4 linked regions of the Homo sapiens genome follow. The protein of the gene in region 1 interacts with the protein of each later gene in a pairwise test. Each region holds a gene or a part of one and is shown in the gene's direction. Other genes may lie near its edges.

Evidence for each region. The genes of interacting proteins can lie anywhere in the genome.
Region 2: the proteins of ENTREP1 (region 1) and PIK3C2A interact in a two-hybrid assay, tested with the Homo sapiens proteins (one large-scale study listed by IntAct).
Region 3: the proteins of ENTREP1 (region 1) and RNF115 interact in a two-hybrid assay, tested with the Homo sapiens proteins (one large-scale study listed by IntAct).
Region 4: the proteins of ENTREP1 (region 1) and ARIH1 interact in a two-hybrid assay, tested with the Homo sapiens proteins (one large-scale study listed by IntAct).

What each region holds. Positions count from the first base shown.
Region 1 is NC_000009.12:69,376,501-69,381,514, forward strand, and holds part of ENTREP1 (endosomal transmembrane epsin interactor 1), read left to right. Parts: intron 1-869; coding exon 870-977; intron 978-1,110; coding exon 1,111-1,244; intron 1,245-5,014. UniProt on the Homo sapiens protein: Functions as an activator of the E3 ubiquitin protein ligase ITCH in the ubiquitination of the CXCL12-activated CXCR4 receptor. Thereby, triggers CXCR4 endocytosis and desensitization, negatively regulating the CXCL12/CXCR4 signaling pathway.
Region 2 is NC_000011.10:17,196,963-17,201,976, reverse strand, and holds part of PIK3C2A (phosphatidylinositol 4-phosphate 3-kinase C2 domain-containing subunit alpha), read left to right. Parts: intron 1-5,014.
Region 3 is NC_000001.11:145,813,072-145,818,085, reverse strand, and holds part of RNF115 (E3 ubiquitin-protein ligase RNF115), read left to right. Parts: intron 1-5,014. UniProt on the Homo sapiens protein: E3 ubiquitin-protein ligase that catalyzes the 'Lys-48'- and/or 'Lys-63'-linked polyubiquitination of various substrates and thereby plays a role in a number of signaling pathways including autophagy, innate immunity, cell proliferation and cell death.
Region 4 is NC_000015.10:72,476,840-72,481,853, forward strand, and holds part of ARIH1 (E3 ubiquitin-protein ligase ARIH1), read left to right. Parts: intron 1-5,014. UniProt on the Homo sapiens protein: E3 ubiquitin-protein ligase, which catalyzes ubiquitination of target proteins together with ubiquitin-conjugating enzyme E2 UBE2L3.

The sequences.
Region 1 (5,014 bases):
AACATTAGCTCAGTGAGTGACAAAATCAACTGGTGAACCCTGAGGTATGGCTTTTTGAGAGTCCACTTCTGCCGGTTTTCTTTAGATATTTGTTTTGGGTTTCATTTTGGTGGGGAGGAAGAATCTCCAAGGAAAGAGAGAACTGTTCCAAGCTACCAGCTCTGGGTTGTGTGGGATGTGGAAATGGCCTGCTTTCCATGGCTTCTGCATTTTTGGTAGCTGAGTCACCCCCAAACTTTCTGAGCCAGGACTTAGCTTGGGGAAAGCCCCACTCAAGGAGCCAGGACTGTACCAACAGAAGCGTTTGGAATGGCCTTTGCTATTTTGAGATGTGTGTTTAGTGGAGAGAAGTCCTATTTACACTCTGGCTGGGCCAGCTCCTTCAGTGTCCTCGTCGTGTGCATGGGGCAGCACAGCCAATTGCTCTTGAAATAGAATTAGTGGCCACAAATTAAGCAGTGTGCTGTGCTGGTGGGAGGCTGTGGGAGGGAGGAGGCTGGGAATTGCTATCCCTGGGGAAATCAGCCTCAGAAGAGAAGCTCACTGCTCTCCTGGAAGGAATGTTTCTCGACAGTATTCTGATGCTTGCAAAAAGAAATACTATCATACCACGTTGTTCTGTGACAGAAAGCTTCTAAGATAAGTTTTTGGAATTAAGAAGTACACATTATTGCATGAGGGTCATAATAATAGCCAGCATTTATTTGGGCACTTTCCACGAGCCAAACACCATCTAAGTCCTTTACATGCATCCTCTCCTGAGAATTGTCTTATGGAGGCAGCGTTATTATTATTTTAAAGATTTTCTACATTGTATTCTGGTGATGTTTGTTGAAGTACTTAGTGGTGCCATTGTTTCCTTGCCCCAGAAAGTCCTCTTTGCCCTGTGTGCCTTGAATGCCCTGACCACCACCGTCTGCTTGGTGGCCGCTGCCCTCCGCTACCTCCAGATATTCGCAACCAGGAGATCCTGCATCGTAAGTCTATGCAAGGGCATCATGGCCACGTTTCCGCTGAGCCAGCCCATGGACCCCTTCGTGTCATCCACTGCCTCTCTCCCCGTGCCTTTGTAATGAAGGCTGTTGACTAACTGAGCTGCTGTTTAATCAGGATGAATCCCAGATTTCTGCTGAAGAAGCGGAGGATCATGGACGCATCCCCGACCCTGATGATTTTGTGCCGCCTGTGCCTCCCCCTTCCTATTTTGCCACGTTTTACTCGTGCACACCCCGGATGAACCGCAGGTATCGTTCCTGAGTTCCCCTGCAGTCTGAGTGGGATGCTGTGGGTTCTGAAGACTGAAGTGTCTCCAGAACTCACCACATGAGATCTCACTTTTCTTTGAAAAAGAAAAAGAAAAATTTTTCCTGACTTGAGGAACGTTAGCCCAATGAGTGACAAAATCAGCTAGTGAACCCTGTGGTATGGCTTTTAGAGAGTCCACCTCTGCCAGCCTTCTTTAGAAAAATGAAAAACAATTATGCTGTTTTTCAGGGGTTTCTATTCTCTCTGTCTCTCTCTCTCTGTTTTCTGTCTTACTTTCTCTTTTTGTCTGATAAAACAGATGAATCCAAAGAAAAGTTAAACTTTGGCCTGAAGATAGACATTTTCAATTTCAATTAGCTTTCTAAGGGAAACTGACACCCAGGGAGATAACAGCTGTAATTTGACATGATTGAGAGTCGCTGTTGCCTTGGAAACACTCCCAGTTAGGCCAAATCGATGTTTCATTGTAATACCATCAGCAGGTCTCAACAATCAAGAAATTCTTCCTAGCCATTAAAAAGAGATTAATTATTAATTGTCTCTCCCTGGTCTAGAAAAAATAGATACCATACTTATTTTCCTTTTCAAATTTCAAACTTAAAATTTTGACCTTCTTAAATATCAAGGATTTTTATTGGTACAGTGAAATGCCGCATACATCTGTCTGATTGTTAGCAACTTCTAGAATCAAACCTTTTTTTAAAGAATGACTTCATTTAGGCGCGGCGTGGTGGCTCACACCTGTAATCCCAGCACTTTGGGAGGCTGAGGCGGGCAGATCATGAGGTCAGGAGATCAAGACCATCCTGGCTAACCCCCGTCTCTACTAAAAATACAAAAAAATTAGCCGGGCATGGTAGTGGGCACCTGTAGTCCCAGCTACTTGGGAGGCTGAGGCAGGAGAATGGCATGAACCTGGGAGGTGGAGCTTGCAGTGAGCTGAGATCGCACCACTGCACTCCAGCCTGGGTGAGAGCGAGACTTTGTCTCAAAAAAAAAAAAAAGAATGACTTCATTCGTTTATTCATTCAACAAACGTGGAATCCTCTGTGCTGGGTTATTGGAATTCAAAATGAGCTAGACCTGCTTCCTCCTCTACCATTAAGGAGCTCACAGTCTAGGTCATTAAAATGTGTGTTGGAAGGATCACGGTAATATTCAAAAGAGGGACTTTGGGTGCACAGAGAAGGTACACCTAACCCAGAGTGGCAAGGCAGTCAGAGATGGCTTCCTGGATGAAGTGAACTTAAGCTGAGTTTAAAGGATAAGCAAACATCTGTTGAACTTTTTGAAAGAGAATCTCTTAATTCCACAGAAATACTAGTGTCTTTAGCTTCATATTCAGAGGGCCAGAAATTTCTATTTTTTAATCCCTGTAGTACATGTAGAGACTTATCAAACTAACTTGGTGCTGAGCTTGAGGTTTTTAGAGAAGTATTTTCTAATGTCCAGGGTGATGGTATGTGACTTTGAGATAGGTCACCAGTGGGGCTGCCACCCAGACACTGTTAGTGTTCTTTTCAGTGGCTTAGCTGCTGACTCGTCCCTCAGTTATACCTGAACCCTACGTCTATACCCTCCCCAGCTCACTTGCCCAGGCAGGGGCAGAGATGACTGCAAAGCTGGAGGGGATGTCAGCTGGGTGACAGGTGGCCTGGGCTAGGCCTGTGGGACAGCTTGGCCTCTCTGGTGTTCAGGGAGTGGCCTCTACTGGAATTTCAAAGCCTCAGGGGCTGGGATGGCTTCCTTAATCTTTCAGGAAATGAGCCAAGAATGACAGAGGCTGAAGAGATATGGCAGCAAAACACATGTTCTTTCTGTACCTGAGGACACATTTGCAAAAATCTTAGCGCCGTCTCAGGCTGTCTGTAGAGGGTACATTGGAGGACAGTAAAAAATGACTGATATTTCATGGTGGGGATGAGAAATACCCTCTCCAATAAGAAGAATTCTTTGACACTGAGGTTGCGGATGAGCACTCTGTTGACCTAGGAGGAGGCAGCAGACAGATTTAGTTTCTGCAGTGGCAGAAAGGGAAAGTGACTCATGTGGGTTTAGGAGCCGAGCCATCCAGCAGTGTGCTCTGAGCACTCCCGACCTTCCTGTCTCCTCGCTTTCCTTTCTCTTCTCTGCTTCACCATAATAATGCTCATCACTGCAGATATTTCCACTCTTTAAGATCTAGGTGCATCCTCGGATTTGTCTCTCTGAGTCCTGAGACAGCCTCTGGCCAAATCCAGGTTGGAAGAAAACAGACAAGCTTCTCATCAAGGGCTTTATCCTTCAAAACTTTCTAGAAAGAAGGCCGAAGGAGGGAGTTAAAGCAAAACAGTCTTGTGAGAAAGAAGACATTGCCCAGTCTAAAATACGTGCCTAGAGCCCTATAATCATATTGCCAATGGGCAAACACCTTTATTTTTGGAAATTTTACCAATATCAGAGTGCAGTCCACTTTCCTTTTCAAAAGGGCTGAATTTATTCACATTTAGATACATGTCCTATCAAAAATATTTCACAATGTGACCAACTTTTCTAGATTCACGGTATAAATCAACTTTATAGACACTCATGGTTTAACCTCAGTTGGTAATTTTCTTTCTTTTAAGCAGGCAGGCAAGAATATTCATGATTGTTACTATTTTATGACCAGTTTTATCCAGAGTTTTCACACAACAGAGGCTCCCCATTTCCTGTAAGGTATTATGACCTCTCAGAAGAGGTTTGTTTAACTTCTATAAATACAACCACTTCATGCGTTGGCATCTCCTTGAGAAAAGGCTTCTCGAGTTACTGTCATAAACAGAAGTCTGATTGCAGTTGAGGTTTCTGTCCAAAGATGGGTTCGCTACTTTGTGAATTGATTTGTAATACAGGAGGGGGCCGTGCACCCCACCCCACCTCCGCTACTCCAGGGTGTCTCTGTTCTCAGAAGTTGGCTTGAGCCAGGGATCAAGGAGTCTCCAACCTATTTCTTGAACATGGATCTGGTTTTTACTCTGGGGATGTAGCCTATTAAAGAAAACCGAAGACTGAGGGGGTCTTGGGCATTGACGTGGTTGACATGGGCATTTCTTAAAGCAGAGCCCCCCCAAACCCCACTCATTTCCTTTCCTAAGAATTTCCAAACCCAAACTCAAGTGGAGCCGGGCGATGCTTGGGGTTGAGTCAGTGCTCAGCTGTAGAGGGTTGGGGGAGGGCCCTTCCCTCTCTCCCCCTCTGCAGGCAGCAACCCTGTACCCAGTCACAGGGTACAGTTTTCCAGTACAGGAGGAGGAGGATTCTCTGGTCAATGGTGTATCTGCTGCTGCATTCCACCTGAGTGAGTCTTCAGGGCCTATTTGTAGCCTGAAAGCAGAACATGCTTTGAATTTCCATCTTCAGTGCTCCTGAGCCTGCACCAGTGAAGTCTTCCTGGGGACTTGGTGATGGACTTGAAAGAGCCAGGCTCTAGAGTCTCTGCAGAGGGTGACCCAGGATGAGTCTCTCACCATTTCTGAGCCTCAGTTTCCTCATTCACCTTCGTTGTCATGTGGCTGCAGGGAGTATTGTTATGAGATAATGGACATAAGAAGCTTTCTGAAAAGAAGCAAGACCCTCATTCTTTAATAAAAATTTGATCAACTTTCCCAGTAGAACAGGGCTTTAATTTCAATCACCATTATCCATTTCCTTTTGCAGTGGTGCTCAATCTTGGTGGTGCATTAGAATCCCCTAGGAGCACTGACAACGGGCAGATTCCTGGGTCCCA
Region 2 (5,014 bases), on another chromosome or scaffold:
GCCCCAGTATTCTTTTCATTGAATCTCTTCATATGGCATTTGAGTGTTTAGATACATAGTACAAACCAGATTTTTGGAGTGTATAAAGAAATAGTTACTTCCTGCCTTTGGGAAGTTTATATTCCAACTAGGAGAGACCAACTAACTACAATCCATGTAGCAAAAAGTACTTCAGTTATTTAAAAAAATTTGTTACGGGAAAGAAAAGATGTAAGGGATAATATAGTCAAATGGAAAATAGATAAGAGTTAATTAGACAAGATTTTTGAGTAAAGAGTTTAGATTGTAAATCCTTACTATAGGAAGAAGAAGATGATGAGGTGTTAAGGATAGTGTTATTTCAATGCACAGAGAACAACTTAAGGGAAAACTTAGCTAAGGGAACATAAAACGTAGGTTTAGGGAAAGCTTTTCTTTTTTTTTTTCTTTTTTCTTTTTTTTTTTTTTTTTTGAGACGGAGTCACGTTCTTTCACCAGGCTGTAGTGCAGTGGTGCGATCTTGGCTCACTGCAACCTCTGCCTCCCAGGCTCAAGTGATTCTCCTGCCTCAGCTTCTCAAGTAGCTGGGATTACAGGCACACGTCACCACGCCCGGCTAATTTTTGTATTTTTAGTAGAGATGGGGTTTCACCATGTTGGCCAGGATGGTCTCAATCTTTTGACCTCATGATCTGCCTGCCTCGGCCTCCTGAAGTGCTGGGATGACAGGCATGAGCCACCACACCAGGCCTAGGGAGGGGTTTTCAAGGCTTATTTTTTATTTTTATTTTTTAGATAGAATATCGCTCTGTAACCCAGGCTGGAGTGCAGTGGCACGATCTTGGCTCACTGCAACCTCCGCCTCACAGGTTCAAGCGATTTTCCTGTCTCAGCTTCCTGAGTAGCTGGGATTACAGGCGTCTGCCACCACATCTGGCTAATTTTTGGGTTTTTAGTAGAGACGGGATTTCACCATGTTGGCCAGGCTGGTCTTGAACTCCTGACCTGAAGTGATCCGCCCACATCTGCCTCCTAAAGTGCTGGGATTACAGGCATGAGCCACCGTGCCCGGCTTGAATCGCCTAGTTTCATCTGACTAGATCTCATAATGACATTTATCAGGCTAGAATTCTGTGTGTATTGAAATGTATGACATGATACTACCATTGTTAAGGATTCTTTTTGAAAAGTCATACTTATTAAGGTATAATTTACACTTAGTAAAATTCATCTGTTTTAGGTGTAAAGTTCTGTATAGTTCTGCTAAAACAGATGAATTACAAAAAACAGTGACAGTTGTGTAACTGCCACCACCACAATTAAGATACAAGATATAGAATATTTCCATCACTCCAAAAATTTCCATAATTATGCCCTTTTGAAGTAAATCCCTTCAGCCCACCCCTCACTCCCTGGCAACAGCTCATTTGTTTTTTATCCCTATAGTTTGGCCTTTCCCAAAATGCCATATAAATTGGCATCACACAGTGTATATAGCCTTTTGAGACTGGCTTCTTTCATTTAGCATAACACTTTTGAGATTCAATAACATGTCTCTTTTTTATTAATAAACTTTTTTAGAAAGTTTATAGAAAAATCATGAAGTTACCAATTTACAGAAAATTTGTAATTGTAGTACAGAGAAATCCCTTAAACCCTGCACCTAGTTTCCCCTATGTTTAAATTTATGTAAACTACTAATTTTTGCTAATGGTCAAACCTGCAAGGTTCTAGAATTAAGTTTGTTGAAAATGGGAAACAATATGAAGATTTCGATCAAGACGATGACTTTCTAATGCCTTTTTTTTTTTTGAAATGCAGTCTCGCTCTGTCGCCCAGGCTGGAGTGCAGTGGCGCGATCTCAGCTCACTGCAACTTCCTCCTCCTGGGTTCAAGCGATTCTCGTGCCTCATCCTCCTGAGTAGCTGGGATTACAGGCACGCACCACTATGCCCAGCTAATTTTTGTATTTTTGTATTTTTTGTATTTTTTACCATCCCAAACAAACTCTGTAGCTGTTAAGCAGTGACTGTTCATTCTCTTCTCAACCCAGCCCCTGGTAACCACTAATCTACTTTTTTTTTTTTTTTTTTTGAGATGGAGGCTGGAATGTAGTGGCACGATCTCAGCTCACTGCAACCTCTGCCTCCCAGGTTCAAGCAATTCTGCCTCAGCCTCCCGAGTAGCTGGGACTACAGGCATGTACCACCACGCCCAGCTAATTTTTGTATTTTTAATAGAGACAGGGTTTCACCATGTTGGCCAGGATGGTCTTGATCCACCTGCCTTGGCCTCCCAAAGTGTTGGGATTACAGGCGTGAGCCCCTGTGCCCAGCCTCTACTTTTTGTCTCTGTGAATTTACCTATTCTAGATCTTTCGTGTGATTGGAATCGTGTAATATTTAGCCTTTTGTGTCTGACTTATGTCACTTAGCGTAATGTTTTCAAGGTTCATACATGTTGTAGAATGTATCATTTTTATGGCTGAATCATATTTAATGTACCACATTTTGTATATTAATTCATTGATGGATACTGCATTTGTTTTCACCTTTTGGCTATTATAAACAATGCTGCTATGAGTATTAGTGTACTCCTATTTTCAGTTCTTTTGGGTATATATCTAGGAGTGGAATTGCTGGGTTGTTGTAATTCCATATTTAATTTTTTGAAGAAACACTAAAGTGTTTTCCAAAGTGGCTGTACCATTTTACATTCCCTTAGCAGCAAAGTATCAGGGTTCCACTTTTTCTACACCCTTGCCACCACTTGTTGTTTTCCTTTTTTCCAGTTATAGCCATTCTAGTAGGTTGACTAGTGATATTGAGTATCTTTTCATGTCCTTATTGATAATAAGTTGGCTTTTTTTTTTTTTTCTTGAGACGGTGTCTCACTCTGTTGCCCAGGCTGGAGTGCAATGGCATGATCTCAGCTCACTGCAACCTCTGCCTCCCAGGTTCAAGTGATTCTCTTGTCTCATCCTCCCAAGTAGCTGGGATTACAGGTGCCTGTCAGCACGCGTGGCTAATTTTTGTATTTTTGGTAGAGACAGTGTTTCACCACGTTGGCCAGGCTGGTCTCGAATTGCTGACCTCAAGTGATCCACCCACCTCGGCCTCCCAAAGTGCTGGGATTATAGATGTAAGCCACTGCGCCCAGACTAAGGTGGCTTTTTTTTTTTGTTTTGTTTTGTTTTTTATGAGGTCTTGCTGTGTTGTCCAGGCTGGGATACAATGGCTATTCGCAGAGACAATCGTAATGCAGTATAGCCTTGACCTGATAGGCTCAAAGGATCCTTCTGCCTCAGCCTCCAGAGTAGGTGGGAGTACAGATGCATGCCACTGTGCACAGTTAATGGTAGCAACATACTGATGCTTGTTTCAACAATGGTCAAGGCAGGGTGATGTTAACATTTTTTAAAAGGAAAAATAATTGGATGGAAACGTATTTTAAAATCGCTATTATATGCTAAGCATTTTATTATATAATTTTATTTAACTCTGAAAACACAGTATTATCTGTGTTTTACAGATGAGAAAACTAAAGACAAAGGGAGATCAAGTAACTTACTTTAAAAATCACACAGTTGGCCTGGCAGTGTGGCTGATGCCTGTAATCCCAGCACTTTGGGAGGCTGAGGTGGGTGGATCACCTGAGGTCAGGAGTTCGAGACCAGCCTGGCCAACATGGTGAAACCCTGTCTCTACTAAAAATACAAAAATCAGCCGGGTGTGGTGGCGGGCACCTGTAATCCTGGCTACTTGGGAGGCTGAGTTAGGAGAATCGGCTTGAACCTGGGAGGTGGAGGTTGCAATGAGCGGAGACTGTGCCACTGTACTCCAGCCTGGGAGACAGAGCAAGACTCCATCTCAAAAAAAAAAAAAATCACACAGTTTATAAGAGGGAAGTCTGATATTTGCTTGCTGCTACATGGTTCTTTCTCCTGCTATCACTGTTATATAAAACTATGAATTTAATCCACATGTTGATGTCATGTGAAAGTAAGACTTTTTTAGTCATAGAAATTGATGGAGTTTGGGGGAAAATTCCAGAAGTAGTCATGTCAGTTTTTCGTTATTTTTTATTATTCACTATTCAGGGTTTCTCAGTTGCAACTCAGTTTTATCTTTTTTCTACCTTAAGCCATGTTAAATGCAGGTATATACCATAACATTTAACACAGAAGCTTTACTGTTATCTGTCATGTTGGAATTGGGGTGATGTCAAAGTTTATTTAATGATTCATGTCAAGTGAATGAACAATGAAGTAGATCAAAGTTCAGTAATTATCTCCACAAAGCAGTACTACTGTTGGGATTCTGAGTTAGATTGAAAACTTCTTGGTCAGCAAAATGTCTTTCAATAGGGATCTCTTGCTGTGACTATATCCCCTTTCCTTGTCCCCCTCCCACATACATACAGTGATACACATATGCAGACATAGAAAATTATCATGGTTAGATACCCTGGTTGTGAATCACTTATGTGTAGAATGTTGCTCCTAAGGGCTGAAGACTACTAGTCTTCAGGAATAATGACTACTAGTGGATATTAAGCTATGGTGCAACCATTGCCTTTTGTCAAAATAGAATTAAGGCCTTTATTAATGTGCTTATAGTAGTTGTGCAGTGGATAATCGTTTTAATAGAGTAATATGGAGGCTAAAGAATGGAGTGGGGGCCAGGTGCGGTGGCTCATGCCTGTAGTCCCAGCACTTTGGGAAGCTGAGGTGGGTGGATCTCTTGTGCCCAGAAGTTCAAGACCAGCATGGGCAACATGGTGAAACCGCATCTCTACTAAAAATAAAAAATTAGCCAGGCATGGTGGTGCTCGCCTATAATCCCAGCTACTCAGGAGGCTGAGGCGGGAGGATCGCTTGAGCTGGAAGGTGGAGGTTGCAGTGAGCCTCCTGACCTTGTGATCCTCCCACCTCAGCCTCCCAAAGTGCGGGGATTATAGGTGTGAGGCCCCGTGCCTGGCCAGGCTCACCTATTTTTAAACTTGTGACGAAGCTTGGGAAGACTCTCCTCTTCAC
Region 3 (5,014 bases), on another chromosome or scaffold:
ACCAAAAAGACACATGCACTTGTATGTTTATTGTGGCACTGTTCACAAGAGCAAAGACATGGAATCAACCTAGATGCCCATCAGTGGTGGACTTAATAAAGAAAATATGGTACATATACATCATGGGATACTATACAGCTATTTAAAAAAAACAAAACCGAAATCATGTCCTTTGCAGCAACATGGATGCAGCTGGAGGTCATTATCCTAAGTGAATTAAAGCAGGAACAGAAAGCCAAGTACCACGTGTTCTCACTTAAAAGTGGGAGCTAAACATTGAGTACACATGGGCATAAACATGGACACGAGGGCTTACTTGAGGTGGTGAGGGTAAGAGGAGGATGAGGGTCAAAAAACTGCCTATCTTGTACTATGGTCAGTTGCTGGGTGACGAAATAATCAGTACACCAAATTCCAGTGACACAGTTTGTCCGTGTAACAAATGTACATATGTGCCCCCAAACCTAAAATCAAAAAAAATATGTGTAGAAAACAAAGAGCAAAATGAAGGACCTAAAACCTAAAAACCATTTATAGTCAATATATAAAAAGGCTTAATACCCCAGTTAAAATCAGATATGGATAAATTTTATAAAAACAAAGTAAACAAAGAGGGTACTGACTCTTGTGATAGTTGGATACCAAGAACCATCCCTCACTGGGGCATGCTGTGGCTCACACCTGTTATACCAACACTTTGGGAACCCAAGGCAGGAGAGGATTGCTTGAGCCCAGGAGTTTGGCACTAGCCTGGGCAACAAAGTGAGACCCTATCTCTACAAAAATTAAAAAAATTAGCCAGGGGTGGTGGTGTGTGTCTGTGGTCCTAGCTACTCAGGAGGCTGAGTCGGGGAAGATTGCTCAAGCCCGGGAGGTCGAGGCTGCAGTGAGCTGTGATTGTGCCATTACACTCCAGTCTGGGTGACAGAGCAAGAGCTTATCTCAAAAAAGAAAAAGACTCCATGATTTAATCTAATCAACTTCAAAAACCCAACTCATTCCTCCACACGCCCTGTGCCTTGGCCATAGCATTTACCTCACCATTCTCCTATGCATTATCTATTTTTAGACCTCTGTCTCCCTTTGTTTAAAATGTTCTCCCAGCCTGGATAACATAGCAAGACCCTGTCTCAACAAAAAAAATAAAAATTAGCTGGGTATGGTGGCATGTGCTTGTAGTCCTAGCTACTTGGGAGGCTGAGGTGGAAGAATTACTTGAGCCCAGGATATTTGAGGTTACAGTGAGCTATGGTTGTGCCACTGTACTCCAGCCTGGGCAACAGAGACCCAGTCTGGATGAGAGAGAAGAGAGAGGGGAGAGAGGAGAGAAAAAAGAAAAGAAAAGAAAAAGAAAAAGAAAGAAAGAACCCATCATCTATGAGTGCTGTCCTCACTGAACACCAGAGGCTGGGTATTGAGTTTACATCAGCTTTTAATGAGCTCTCACTAGGTTTCTTCACCCATTCAATGGGAAGGTCTGCTTCAGAGCCATAATTGTGTTCAACGGGACTAGGTTGCAAGGTTTAATAACTCTTCTCTTCTTTTTAAAATTTAATTACTTTATTATTTCACCTTTTTTTTTAAAGCCACATGTAGGCTGAATTCATTTAATTTGACAGAATAACACTCCTTACTGCTAATCCTGATCAATTTTAGCTTTGTGTGTCTTTGGGTTGGATCCACTCAGATAAGAGGACAAAAGAGGGCCGGGCATGGTGACTAGTGCCTGTAATCCTAGCACTTTGGGAGGCCAAGGTGGGCGGATCACCTGAGGTCAGGACTTCAAAACCAGCCTGGCCAACATGGTGAAACCCCTGTCTCTACTAAAAATACAAAAATTAGCCTGGCGTGGTGGTGGGCGCCTCTAATCTAAGCAATTTAGTGATTTGAGCTGGGCTCGGGAGGCTGAGGCAGGAGAATCGCTTGAAAACCCAGGAGGCGGAGCTTGCAGTGAGCTGAGATCGTGCCATTGCACTCGCAAAAAGAGCGAGACTCCATCTCAAAAAAAAAAAAAACCATTCAAAAAGAGGACAAAAGGTTCATTTGGAAAGAGGATATTAAGAAATAAGGAGAAATCATGAAGGGAATTTTAAAATGAAAACATATTTAGTGGCATTGTTTTCTGTTAGGTTTCAAAAAAGTCTCCATTCCAAGTGAGTATTGGTTTAGGAATTTCTTTCTCCTTATTAAAAGTGTTTTCCTATTTACAGTGAAAATAACTTTAGTAAAATTTTGTGAGTACTAAACTTGGATTTTAAAATCAGAGATTTCGATTATATAGTCTGGAGCCTCAGGATTTTAAGTTTCTGTAGGATTGGGTAAAATGCCATTGTAGATTTTTTGGTCATCAGATTATAGAATAAATACTTAAAGTAACTTCAGATTATTATTTTCAAAACCATAGCAGAAACTCTTACCTTACCTATCTTATTGAGAGACAATGTGAAGCCAAGACTAATGGAGTTAGTGTGCTACATTGATGATGAATGACTGGGTAGTACACCACAGAGGGCTGTGTCATGGAGTGTAAAGGTGTTATTCCATTCCTACACCCTACCATCCGTCTTTCCCCATTAAATCAAGGTCAGGGAATGTTACCTTATGTGATTAAATCTGGTAGAGTCATCATTAAACAGGTGAGATAAATCATATGCAGAGTAACCTACTTTTGGTATTGATGAGACTAGGGTGGTTCTTAAGTATTTTATGGAGATCAGGGTATCTTCCTAAATCCAGATGAAGAGATCAGGTTAAGAACTGCTCGCTTTCAGGCTCCACCTGAAGAAACTATGTAGTAGGCTTCTCTCCCTCTACTTATTTTATCATCTTCTTTGATCTAATAAAATGTTTTCCTTATCAATAAGTAATGTTATCTAGTTTGGCTCTACCAGGTGCTAGAGAAGGCATTCATCATTGTATTGTACTTGCAATAACTCTAATACAGGAAAATGTTCAAACCACCCATAATAAAAGTAGCTAAAAAGCAGATTTCTTAAAGACTTTGTGACCGTTTAAGCTCAGCTGACCTTTCTAAGTTGCATGATTCTTAGAAAGGTCCCAGAGAGATGTCTATCTGGTGCTATATAGCAGTTGCTAATTAAATATTTTTTAATTGAATGATTGATATGAGTTGAACACCCAGTAATTATATTTAAAAAGTGATGACTTCAGTGTTTTGACGCCTTTAAAAGGCTACAGTGGTACAAAATGTAGGTGCTACCATGTGAAATTTGAATGTACAGTGAAGTACATATATTCACTGCAATATCTAGAAATAAATATGTATTCTTATAGGTAGAGGCTAGTTTATCCTTGTAATTCTACTGATAAATATAAATGTATATATTGGGGAAATTTGTGGGACTTTTTCAGTATAAGGAAGAAAAAAATCTGAAAATTGAACTCACTGCAGAAGAAATTTTTTGTATTTTCGGGGGAAGTACCAACTAGATGTGCTAACACTTTGTATTTCTTTATGTTTAGTTGCCTCTTTTTTTTTTTTTTAAACGGAGTTTCCCTCTTTCACCCAGGCTGGAGTGCAGTGGCACGATCTCGGCTCACTGCATCCTCTGCCTTACAGTTTCAAGTGATTCTCCTGCCTCAGCCTCCCAAGTAGCTGGGATTACAGGTGCCTGCCACCACGCCTGGCTAATTTTTGTATTTTTAGTAGAGACGAGGGTTTCACCATGTTGGCCAGGTTGGATCTCTTCACATCCTACTGAGCAATAAATGAGATAGCCTAGAGCAGTGGTTTTCAATTTCAGGTAGTTTTGTTTCCCAGGGAACATTTGGCAAAGTCTGTAGACAATTTTTTATCTTTTTTTTGGAGACAGAGTCTGACTTTGTTGCCCAGGTTGGAGTGCAGTGGCATGATCACGGCTCACTGCGGCTTCCACCTCCTGGGCTCAAGCAATCCTCCCACCTCAGCCTCCCAACTAGCTGTACCACCACACCCGGCTAATTTTTTAATTTTTTGTAGAGACAGAGTCTCACTGTGTTGCCTAGGCTGGTGTCAAACTCCTGGCCTCAAGCAGTCCTGCTTCGGCCTCCCAAAGTATTGGGATGGTAGGTGTGAGCCACCACACCCAGCCTGTAGACATTTTTGATTTTTGGAACTAGGGGCTGGAGGAGGGTTGCTACTGTCATGCAGTGGGTGGAGGCCAGAGATGCTGCTGAACATGCTGCAGTGCACAGGATAGACCCCTCAAAACAAAGAATTATATTGGGCCCAAAAAGGTAAGAGGGCTGAGGTTGAGAAACCCTGGGATAGATAGAGGGATAGTCAGTGTCATCTTGTGCTAATTGTGTTTAAGGTTTTGTTTTGGTGTAGGTTTGATTTTTAATTTTGGGATCCCAGTGAATTTTCAGTAAGAAAATTGAGACCGTATAATTTTAGGCAAACCTCTGATGGGAGAGAGTGTTTAGAACAGGAACTAGGGCTCAGTTAGTGGCTGCAATTCCATTATAGCAGTATCTATTGGAGTTACTTTCTGTCTTTGGAGTTACTGAGACCAGAGGAATTGGATTACCCCTCTCAAGTTACATACTGTAAGGGCAACTTATAAAAGAAAACTATCCACATTTTTTTGTCAGTTGGGAATTAATTGAGATAGAAACACTGCATGTAATTTAGTAAGACAGCTGGAAATCCCAGTTTGAAAACAAAATGAAAAGCAGACAACAAGCCTAACTTTTAGTTTTGCTTTCTGTGTTTCTCTTATACCTCTCAGAAGTTTCATAAGCTCCAGAAATTTTGTGTTTAACCTTTTAGTTTCTTCAAATTCTTGGTTGAGAGGGTATATTGGAGTTATTAATCTTTGTTCTAAAATTCTTCGGGTGACTTCTCGCTGAGTCATCTGACCGTCTCAGTTTACCTAAGTATATCCCATTGTAAAATGATACTTAGGTGCACGTATGGGAAGCTTGAATGAGGAATGGAGCTGTATAATCCTAATTGAAAGGCAGTGTAAGAATCATGAGCAATCCTTATTTGCAGAGAAATAGGGCCATTACC
Region 4 (5,014 bases), on another chromosome or scaffold:
TTGTGTTTTCAGTGGAAAAACATTACAGAAATACTCTGAACAACCTTCTGTCAAGTAAATTTTTCGAGAACTTATATGATTATAGATCTGAACTAATTTATTTAATCAATCTGTTATTTGCCTTCCTTTTTATTTTCTAGTTTCTGGCTTTTATAAATATTGAAAATATCCTCATAGGTCAGTCTTTGAGTGTTCTTATTTTCTTGGGATAAAGTGAATTGCTGAGTCAAAAGAATTTGCTCATTTTCAATGCATTTGATACATACTACCACATTGCTTTCAGAAAAGTTATGCTAGTTTTCCCAACCAGTGTTTGATGGGCAAAAAAAACCTGGTGAGATTGAATTTATGTTTATTGGGCTTGGTATTTCTTTTTTAAATTGCCCCTCGCTTTTTGCTCATTTTATTCTCTTTTGCCCATTGCCCCTCTTTGGGATATTTATCTCTTACTGGTTTGTAAGACTTCTTTCTATTAATAGAGGTTGGAAATAGCAGTTATCTAGGTTTTTAATGTTGGTTTGATAAACACTGAATTTTACTTAGTTTGCATTAGAGAGCTTACTGTTAACTCTTAAACATTTAAATTCCCTGTTCTCAGTTCTAATTTTCAGTGTGAAATCAGGTAAGATACATTTGCAGGTGAAAAAGTTTGAAATGTAAAAAGATAACCAAATTAATTTAATATTTCCTTGGGAATTTGATTACTTTTTCTGGGAGAGGAGTTCTGGGCAACAACATAAATACTGTTATTTGTGGATATTTGCAGGTTAGGTTTGGTCTTCAAATAAGTCAACATTATTTTCTTTCAGAAAACTTGGTTTTCTGGCTTTCTATAATTTCCCAATTAACATTTAAATAAAAGACCAAATTAAACAATTAAACTTTATTTAATTTGGTCTTTTGTTTAAATGCTTTGTGGCTACCTAGCTTACCTTTTCAGCTTTTAAGGAAAAAAAAAATCAGAGTTTTTTATTTTGTTTTGTTTGGAGACAGCCTCACTCTGTCACCCAGGCTGTAGTGCAGTCGCGTGATCTCAGCTTACTGCAACCTCTCCCTCCCAGGTTCAAGAGATTCCCCTTGCCTCAGCTTCCCCCCCTACCCCAGTATCTGGGATTACAGGCACCTGCCACCAGGCCCAGCTAATTCTTGTGTTACAGGGTTTCCCCATGTTCATCATGCTGGTACTGAACTCCTGGCCTCAAGTGATCTGCCCTTCTCGGCCTCCCAAAGTGCTGGGATTACAGGTGTGAGCCACCATGCCTGGCCAGGGTGTTTTTTGTTATTTGTTTATTTTGAGACAGAGTTTCATTCTGCTGCCCAGGTTGGAGTGCAGTGGCGTGATCTCAGCTCACTGCAACCTCCGCCTCTTGGGTTCAAGCAATTCTCCTGCCTGAGCCTCCCGAGTAGCTGGGATTACAGGTGTGCACCACCACACCCAGCTACTTTTTGTATTTTTTAGTAGAGAGGGGGTTTCACCATGTTGGCCAGGCTGGTCTTGAACTCCTGAACCCAGGTGATCCACACAGCTGGGCCTCCCAAAGTGCTGGGATTACAGTCTTGAGCCACCGCGCCCAGCCTAAAAAGTAGTTTTCTAATGTAACTATATAAGTAGCTAGGTAATTTATTAAAAGAACCCTGTTCAATTCTGCAGTTGGGAGTATTTAAACTTGCCATTTTGTTTTTCCACAACAGTGTTCAGCAAATGTTGATTGTGCTTTCTAAGTATGCCAGGCATTATGTTAAGCAGAGGATATGCTCCTTGCCTAAGGAGCATATAGGGATAGGGAATATGGAGGTCCTTGAACTCCACTTCCAGAGATTCTTACTCATTAATGAAGTCTGAGGTGAAACCTTAGCATCTCTGTATTTTAGCCTTCTAGTGATAACCAAACCACTGGAATAGTGATAGTTAATCCACTGTCACGATTTTGACTCAGGCAGGGTGAGTAGAGTGAGAAGAGCAGCAGCTCTTAGGGGCACAGATTGGGTATACCTAATCAAAAAATCAGAAATGCTCTGAAATCACTTTGTGTTGTTGCCCAGACTGAAGTGCAATGGCAAGATCATAGCTCACTGCAACCTCAACTTCCTGAGCTAAAGTGATTCTCCCGCCTCAGCCTCCTGAGTAGCTAGGACTATAGGTGTGTGGCACCACTCCTAGCTAATTTTTTTTCTTTTTTGTAGAGACACAGGGTCTTGCTCTGTTGCCCAGGCCAGTCTCAAACTCCTGGCCTCAAGCGCTCCTTGAACCTCAGCCTCTCAAAATGGTAGGCCTGGAAATCCAAAACTTTTTGAGCACCGTTGTGATGCTCAAAGGAAATGCTCACTGCAGCATTTTGGATTTCGGATTTTCAGATTAGGGATGTTGATTGTAAGTATAATTAAATATTCCAAATCTGAAAAACTTCTGGTCTCAAGTATTTTGGATAAGGAATACTCAACCTGTACCATATTTAGAGTGTGTGCCGAGAGGAATATGGACCTGGGACTATTGAATGTGAGTGGTCAGAGGAGGTATAAAAAACAGTGGATAGGTATCTTGCTTTTATAAGATCTGTTATGCTAAATAACTTTTTTTTTTTTTGGAGACGGAGTCTTGCTCTGTTGCCAGGCTGGAGAGCAGTGGTGGCGTGATCTTGGCTCAGTGCAACCTCTGCCTCCTGGGTTCAAGCGATTCTCCTGCCTCAGCCTCCTGAGAAGCTGGGACTACAGGTGCGCGCCACCACACCCAACTAATTTTTGTATTTTTAGTAGAGACTGGGTTTCACCATGTTGGTCAGATGGTCTCAACCTCTTGACCTCGTGATCCGCCTGCCTTGGCCTCCCAAAGTGCTGGGATTACAGGCGTGAGCCACCGTGCCCAGCCAAATAACTCATTTTAAAGAAAAAAATATCTAAGCCTTACTGAAGAAATTTTCTGTTGGCTGTTGGTTCGAAAGCTGTATTTCACTTATTTAATTAAGAGATTTAATTAAAGAACCTCAAGTTGAGGTTGCAAGCCTAAACTAAGGAAGACAGTGTACTATTCTTTTTTTTTTTTTCGTTTGAGACGGAGTCTCGCTTTGTTGCCCAGGCTGGAGTGCGGTGGTGCGATCTCGGCTCACCGCAAGCTCCGCCTCCTGGGTTCACGCCATTCTTCTGCCTCAGCCTCCCGAGTAGCTGGGACTACAGGCAGCCGCTACCATGCCTGGCTAATTTTTTTGTATTTTTTAGTAGAGATGGGGTTTCACCATGTTAGCCAGGATGATCTGGATCTCCTGACCTCGTGATCCGCCCACCTCGGCCTGCCAAAGTGCTGGGATTACAGGCATGAGCCACCGTGCCCGGTCAACAGTGTACTATTCTAGCATATTGTTTACTGATTGGGGAGTCAGTTATAGCCCTGGTTTTTACTCTGTCTAGTTAATATCTCAGAACCTTCAAATTTTTTTTTTTTTTTTTTATACATGTCTCACTGTGTCACCCAGGCTGGAGTGCAGTGGCCTGATCTTGGCTCACTGCAACCTCCACTTCCAGGGTTCAAGCGATTCTCCTGCTTCAGCCTCTCAAGTAACTGGGATTACAGGCACGCGCCACCACACCCAGCTATTTTTTGTATTTTATTAGAGATGAGGTTTCACCATGTTGGCCAGGCTGGTCTCGAACTCCTGACCTCAAATGATCGACCTACCTTGGCCTCCCAGAGTGTTGGGATTATAGGCATGAGCCACGGTGCCCAGCCACACTTTTTGTTGTTGTTGTTGAGATGGAGTTTCTCTCTTGTTGCCCAGGCTGGAGTGCAATGACGCGATCTCAGCTCACTGCAACCTCTGCCTCCCAGGTTCAAGCGATTCTCCTGCCTCAGCCTCCTGAGTAGCTAGGATTACAGGCGTATGCCACCACGCCTGGCTAATTTTGTATTTTTAGTAGAGATGGGGGTTTCTCCATGTTGGTCAGGCTGGTCTCAAACTCCCGACCTCAGGTGATCTGCCCGCCTCGGCCTCCCAAAGTTCTGGGATCACAGTGAGCCACCTTGCCCGGCCTTGTTTTGTTTTTAATCTGGGACTGAAAATGAGGGAGTTGAAATACTAGGTTGGTCCTTTTTTACATTAAGTGTTTTATTCGTTTAACATCATTTTAAAAACCTCAGTTAATTGGAGATGTTCATTTTTTCCAAGAAATTGAATTCAGGTGTGCATATTGTGGTTATGTTCATTAATTGGGAGAGGAGGAAGAGGGTGTACAAGCCTGTGCATGATGTGTGCAGGCACATGTGTTTTGAAGTTATTAAAGTGTTTGATATAGTTTAGATTTATTTCTTTTGGACTTTTATATTTTCCCAGCTGATCTCCTTGAGCTGTAAGTTTAAATTACACTGACTTGTTGAATTGCTATGGCAGTAGTCCTATGAATCAAACTCTGGGGATGGGGTCTGGCTGTCTGTTTTAACAAGCCTTCTAGGTGATGGTGATGCAAGCTAAAGTTTGAGAACTGCTGATGTAGTTGAAATTTAATAGCAGTGTTTCTCTATGTGTTACGTGTAGTGATAGATTACTACAGAGGTGGGTTAATGAGGGAAGATAAATTGTTTAAGAAACTAATAATAGGGGACCAGTCACGGTGGCTCACACCTGTAATCCCAGCACTTTGGGGACTGTGCCAGGCAGATCACTTGAGGTCAGGAGTTTGAGACCAGCCTGGCCAATATGGTGAAACACTAGCTGGGCGTGGTGGCCTGTGCCTGTAATCCCAGCTACTTGGGAGACTTGAGGCAGGAGAATTGCTTGAACCTGGGAATTGGAGGTTGCAGTGAGCTGAGATAGTGTCACTGCACTCTAGCCTGGGTGACAGAGGGAGACTCTACTTCAAAAAAAAGGTAATAATGGGAAAATTTCCAGAACCTAGGCAACGTTTACTAGGCTAATCATAGGGTTGGAAGATGTTTGTCATCGTAGATGCTATCCTTCATGCTATGCTATCCTTCAGCTAAGGTGGTCTTTACTCAGTATTTTCTTTTCTTTTCTTTTCTTTTTTG